2 separate regions of the Homo sapiens genome follow, and region 1 is linked to region 2. A link means that fine-mapping ties the variant in region 2 to the plasma level of a protein whose gene starts in the linked region. Region 2 holds a variant in brackets. A gene starts in the other region. All regions are shown on their reverse strands. Region 1 holds the start of LTBP2 (latent transforming growth factor beta binding protein 2). Region 2 overlaps ATP13A2 (ATPase cation transporting 13A2).

The links. PIP is the chance, under the fine-mapping model, that this variant and not a neighbour inherited with it causes the effect. The UK Biobank Pharma Proteomics Project read protein levels with antibody pairs (Olink). The fine-mapping took linkage between variants from a reference panel, not from the people measured, so its PIPs are less certain.
Region 1: LTBP2 starts here. The variant in region 2 is fine-mapped to the plasma level of the LTBP2 protein (UK Biobank, PIP 0.96).

What each region holds. Positions count from the first base shown.
Region 1 is chr14:74,611,281-74,614,114 of GRCh38, reverse strand. It overlaps LTBP2 (latent transforming growth factor beta binding protein 2), which reads left to right and starts at 1,878. Exons shown (of 36, transcript NM_000428.3): 1 at 1,878-2,664. The coding sequence starts at 2,171. It overlaps LOC101928352 (a long non-coding RNA gene), which reads right to left and starts at 930. Exons shown (of 2, transcript XR_944029.4): 1 at 820-930; 2 at 67-548. RefSeq lists a silencer at 1,248-1,567 and an enhancer at 1,195-1,822.
Region 2 is chr1:16,988,628-16,991,454 of GRCh38, reverse strand. ATP13A2 (ATPase cation transporting 13A2) reads left to right here. Exons shown (of 29, transcript NM_022089.4): 21 at 1,168-1,328; 22 at 1,452-1,568; 23 at 1,685-1,764. Among named protein-coding and RNA genes, the nearest start is that of MFAP2, 9.4 kb to the right of the region's middle. The variant C/T (reference allele first, on the strand shown) is at 2,525.

The sequences.
Region 1 (2,834 bases), not on the chromosome of region 2:
TAGTCCCTCTTTAGGTTCAGCCCATTAAAAAATTCAGTTACACGAGCAAACAAATCAATAACAAGATGATGTCAACTGTTTTATGAAGATGAAACAGGGTGGTGTGTTAGAGTCATGACTGGGGTGAGGGAGGGCTGCTCTAGATTGGAGGTCAGGGATGGCTACTCCAGGAGCTGATATTTAATCTGAGAGGAGCAGTGATGAGGAACTACCCTCTAACATCCTGGAGAGGAACCTTCCAGTAGAGGGAAGGGGGCATTCACTTGGCTTGTTCAAGGAGCAGAGAGAGGGCCAAGGCAGCACAGTGTGGTGGGTAAGGGAGAGCAAGAGGCCAGATGAAATCAGAGCGGGGGCAGCCAGCTAGGGTTTGTAGGCCAAGGCCAGGGGTCGAGGCTTTATTTCAACAGTAGATATTACCTGGGCTTGTCTTTTGTGTGGTGTGGGAGGTTGTGAACTGGTGCCCACATGCCAGCTCCTTCACTCTGCCTCTCTGGGAAATAGGCTGTACAAATGTGCCAGGGGCAGCCCTGTTGATCCAAGCCTTTAGGCTGTAGGGAGGGAGCATGGGTGAGAATGGTGTGCTGATTACTGGGGACACGCAGACAGCGGCAGTCAGCATTCCCACACCCCTGCCCGCCTCCCTGCTAACACAAGATGTGAATGCACACACTGGGTCAATCGGGGTCACCGAATCCCCCTCTGGGAAATTCCCGAGAGAGTGAAGGGCTGGGTGGGATCCCGGGAATGGATTCAGCCAGAGGCGGGAGGCCTAGATTCCACTCCCCTCTTTCACATGCGCTATCTCCTTGAGTGACTTACTCAAGAGGCTCCGTGTCTTTGCCTCGGTGAAAAAGAGGACCCCTTGGCCGGGCGTGGTGGCTCACGCCTTTAATCCCAGCACTTTGGGAGGCCGAGGCGGGCGGATCACCTGAGGTTGGGAGTTCGAGACCAGCCTGACCAACATGGAGAAACCCCGTCTGTACTAAAAAATAAAATAATATACAAAATTAGTCAGACTTGGTGGCGCATGCCTGTAATCCCAGCTACTAGGGAGGCTGAGGCAGGGGAATCGCTTGAACCCGGGAGGCGGAGGTTGCGGGGAGCTGAGATCGCACCATTGCACTCCAGCCTGGGCAACAAGAGCGAAACTCCGTCTCAAAAAAAAGAAAGAAAGAAAGAAAGAAAAGAAAAAGAAAAAGAAAAAGAGGACCCCTCTTCTACCGGCAGCCATCACCGCGCCAGGCTCAGGCGTGACCCTCACGCCAGTGGAAGGGGATTGAGATCCAGAGCGAAGGCGGCGGCGCCAGGGCATTGCAGCCACGGAGCGCCAGGGCCGCCAGCTCCGCCAGGGGGCGCGCCCGGGACCTCCCTGCGCTCCGCGCGCCGCGCCCCGCCCCGCGCCACCCCCGCTCCGGCCGGCCCTGCGGAGGGCGCCCCCAGCGGCCAGGGCGCAAGCGGAGGGGGCGGCGGCCCTGTTCCCCTACGCGGGCCTCGGCGCCCCTCCCGGCTTCCTTCAGACCTGCAAGGCTGCAGCCTGGGTCCCCCGATCCAAAGACGGTCCCTGAGGCGAGGGGCGGGAGAACGATTCGGGGCAGGTCTGCAGTTCGAACTTGCCCAGAGCAGGAGAAAGGCGGCCCAGTGTCCCGGTCGTGGCAGGCGCCATCTGCCCGACCAGCGCCTGGGTCAGCCCCGCGCCGCCCCCTGCTCCGCACGGGTTAATCCCCCTCGCCGCCCGCTCGCCGCCCGCTGGCTTCCCGGTGCCAAAGTGGGTGTTGCTGGAATTCCTCGCTCCCTCTCCGGTAATGAGGGGGCTGAGCTGTCCCTCCGAGGAGGGGGCCTGGTGTGGATAAAAGAGACGAAAAAGCCGGGGGAGGTTTCCAAAAATAAAACCGTCCGGGTCCCCTTCAGACGGCTGCAGGCACAGGGAGGAGGCGCGAAGGTGCAGCAGCCGTGCGAGCCCAGCTGGAGTAGGAGCGCGGACTCGAGGCTCGGGGCGCGCAGCCCTCGTTCCGCCGAGAGCCGGGCCCCCAGTCGGCCGCTTCAGGGCCCCCTAGACTCAGAGAAGCTGGCCGCCGGGCGGGGCCGGGAGAACAGCCCGCGGGCGTCCAGCGTGCCGACCACAAAGCTCTTCGCGGTGCCCGCGCGCACCACTCTCCAGCCGCCCCGCGCCATGAGGCCGCGGACCAAAGCCCGCAGCCCGGGGCGCGCCCTGCGGAACCCCTGGAGAGGCTTCCTGCCGCTCACCCTGGCTCTCTTCGTGGGCGCGGGTCATGCCCAAAGGGACCCCGTAGGGAGATACGAGCCGGCTGGTGGAGACGCGAATCGACTGCGGCGCCCTGGGGGCAGCTACCCGGCAGCGGCTGCAGCCAAGGTGTACAGTCTGTTCCGGGAGCAGGACGCGCCTGTCGCGGGCTTGCAGCCCGTGGAGCGGGCCCAGCCGGGCTGGGGGAGCCCCAGGAGGCCCACCGAGGCGGAGGCCAGGAGGCCGTCCCGCGCGCAGCAGTCGCGGCGTGTCCAGCCACCTGCGCAGACCCGGAGAAGCACTCCCCTGGGCCAGCAGCAACCAGCACCCCGGACCCGGGCCGCGCCGGCTCTCCCACGCCTGGGGACCCCACAGCGGTCTGGGGCTGCGCCCCCAACCCCGCCGCGAGGGCGGCTCACGGGGTGAGCATGGGAGAGGGAAGTTTGGAGGGTACAGAGGGGAGCCAGGGCTCATTTGTGGAGGGGCGTGCAGGCGAGAGGAGAGGGCGCCGCTCTCATACCCTCGTCCCTCTGTCTTTAGTACTTCGGGAAACAGCCCCGAGGTTCCAAAATCGGGATTGGAAGATTTGATC
Region 2 (2,827 bases):
GAGAAATGGGGATAATGATGTCAGCCTCAGAGGCTGTGACAAGCTCAAGGAGCAGGAAGAGAAAGATTCTGGCCGGGCACGGTACTTCATGCCTGTAATCCCAGCACTTTGGGAGGCCAAAGGAGAAGGATGTCTTGAACCCTGGAGTTCAAGACCAACCTGGGCAACATGGCAAAACTCCGTCTCTACAAAGAATACGAAAATGGCCGGGCACAGTGTCTCACGCCTGTAATCCCAGCACTTTGGGAGGCCGACGCGGGCGGATCACTTGAGGTCAGGAGTTCGAGACCAACCTGGCCAACATAGTGAAACCCCGTCTCTACTAAAAATACAAAAAATTAGCCAGGTATGGTGGTGGATGCCTGTAATCCCAGCTACTCGGGAGGCTGAGGCAGGAGAATCACTTCAACCCGGGAGGTGGAGGTTGCAGTGAGCTGAGATCACGCCATTTCACTCCAGCCTGGGCAACAGAGAGAGACCCAGTCTCAAAAAAAAAAAGATTCTAGCTAGGGTGAGACAGCAGGAGCTAAGAGGTCTGTGTCCTTGTCCTCCCCGCCCCTGCACACACACATATGTGCACACACATTCATGGGCACTTGGCAGCAGAGTCACACAGCAGTAAGGAGTATATGTAGCCTGGGCACATGGCTCGTGCCTGTAATCCCAGCACTCCGGGAGGCCGAGGCAGGGGGATCACCTGAGGCCAGGAGTTCAAGACCAGACTGGCCAACATGGTGAAACCCCATCTCTACTAAAAATGCAAAAAAAATTAGCCTGGTGTGGTCGCACCCTCCTGTAATCCCAGCTACTCAAGAGGCTGAGGCAGGAGAATTGCTTGAGCCCAGGAGGAAGGAGGTTGCAGTGAGCCGAGATCAAGCCACTGCACTCCAGCCTGGGCCACAGAGAGAGACTCTTGTCTTAAAAAAAGAAAAAAAAGGAGTATATGTGGAGCTCCAGCCCACGGCTCCAGGTTCTCCTAAGACCCTTCAATGCCTGGATCTACAGATGAGAAAACTGAGGCAAAGGGATGTTGGTAACCTGCCTCAGCTCACTTGGCTGGTGGTGGCAGACGGATTTCATCCAGCCTGTTTTCCCATCTGTAAGGATCAGGATGAGGATGGCCTCCCCGGATAGCCTCAGACCCTCACCTTGCCCCATAACCCCCAGGGGACAACCTGCAGACAGCGGTGACTGTGGCCCGGGGCTGTGGCATGGTGGCCCCCCAGGAGCATCTGATCATCGTCCACGCCACCCACCCTGAGCGGGGTCAGCCTGCCTCTCTCGAGTTCCTGCCGATGGAGTCCCCCACAGCCGTGAATGGCGTTAAGGTGAGGCTAACCCAGAGTTCCAGCTGTACCTCACCCAGTGACCCCACCCCTGTGTCACCTGACCCAGGCCCCAACTCTCCAGGGTGGGCAGGGGGAGCTAAGCTGAGCTTCCTGGGCCCCCAGGATCCTGACCAGGCTGCAAGCTACACCGTGGAGCCAGACCCCCGATCCAGGCACCTGGCCCTCAGCGGGCCCACCTTTGGTATCATTGTGAAGCACTTCCCCAAGCTGCTGCCCAAGGTAGGGCCGCCCCCAGCTCCCTGGCCGCCCTGCGCCTCCCCTGCTCTGTCTCCTTCCTCACGGCTCGCTCTCCCTGGTGGGTGCCTCAGCCCTCCCCCATCTCCCTGTGCTCCCAGGTCCTGGTCCAGGGCACTGTCTTTGCCCGCATGGCCCCTGAGCAGAAGACAGAGCTGGTGTGCGAGCTACAGAAGCTTCAGTGAGTGCTCGGCAGAGGGTGTGGGCAAGGGCCTGCGGAGACTGAGCTTGTCCGTTCGTCTGTTCATCTGTCCTTCCCCAGGGCCCTGTCTCCCTCCTCAGGCACCAGAGAGCTGTCACCCCTCCTCACCAAAAGCAGGCAGGCTCTCCCAGGTCTTTCATGCTAAAAATAATAATTGTAGGCTGGGTGCGGTGGCTCATTCCTGTAATCCCACCTCTTTGAGTGGCCGAGGTGGGAGGATCACTTGAGCCCAGGAGTTTGAGGCCAGCCTGGGCAACAAAGTGAGACCCCATCTCTTATTAAAAATTTAAAAATTAGCCAGGTGTGGTGACACACCGGTCATCCCAGCTACTCAAGAGGCTGAGGCAGGAGGGTTGCTTGAGCCTGGGAGGCTGCGGCTGCAGTGAGCCATGATCACACCACTGCACTTCAGCCTGGGCAACAGAGCGAGACTCCGTCTCAAAAAATAGTAATAGGCCAGGCGCGGTGGCTCATGCCAGTAATCCCAGCGCTTTGGGAGGCTGAGGCAGGCAGATCACCTGAGGTCAGGAGTTCAAGACCAGCCTGGCCAACATGGTGAAACCCTGTCTCTACTAAAAATACAAAAATTAGTTGGGCATGGTGGCGCACACCAGTAATCCCAGCTACTCAAGAGGCTGAGGGCACTTGGGCAGCAGAGGAGGTTGTAGTGAGCAGAGATCACGCCACTGCACTCTAGCCTGGGCAACAGAGGGAGACTCTGTCTCAAAAAATAATAGGC[C/T]GGGCACGGTGGCTCATGCCTGTAATCCCAGCACTTTGGGAGGCCGAGGCGGGTGGATCACCTGAGATCAGGAGTTTAAGACCAGCCTGGCCAACATGGTGAAACCCCATCTCTACTAAAAATACAAAAAATTAGCCAGGCGTGGTGGCGGGCGTCTGTAATCCCAGCTACTTGGGAGGCTGAAGCAGGAGAATCACTTGAGCCCAGGAGGCAGAGGTTGCAGTGAGCTGAGATCATGCCATTACACTCCAGCCTGGGCAACAAGAGTGAAACTCCGTCTCAAAAAATAATAATAATAATGAT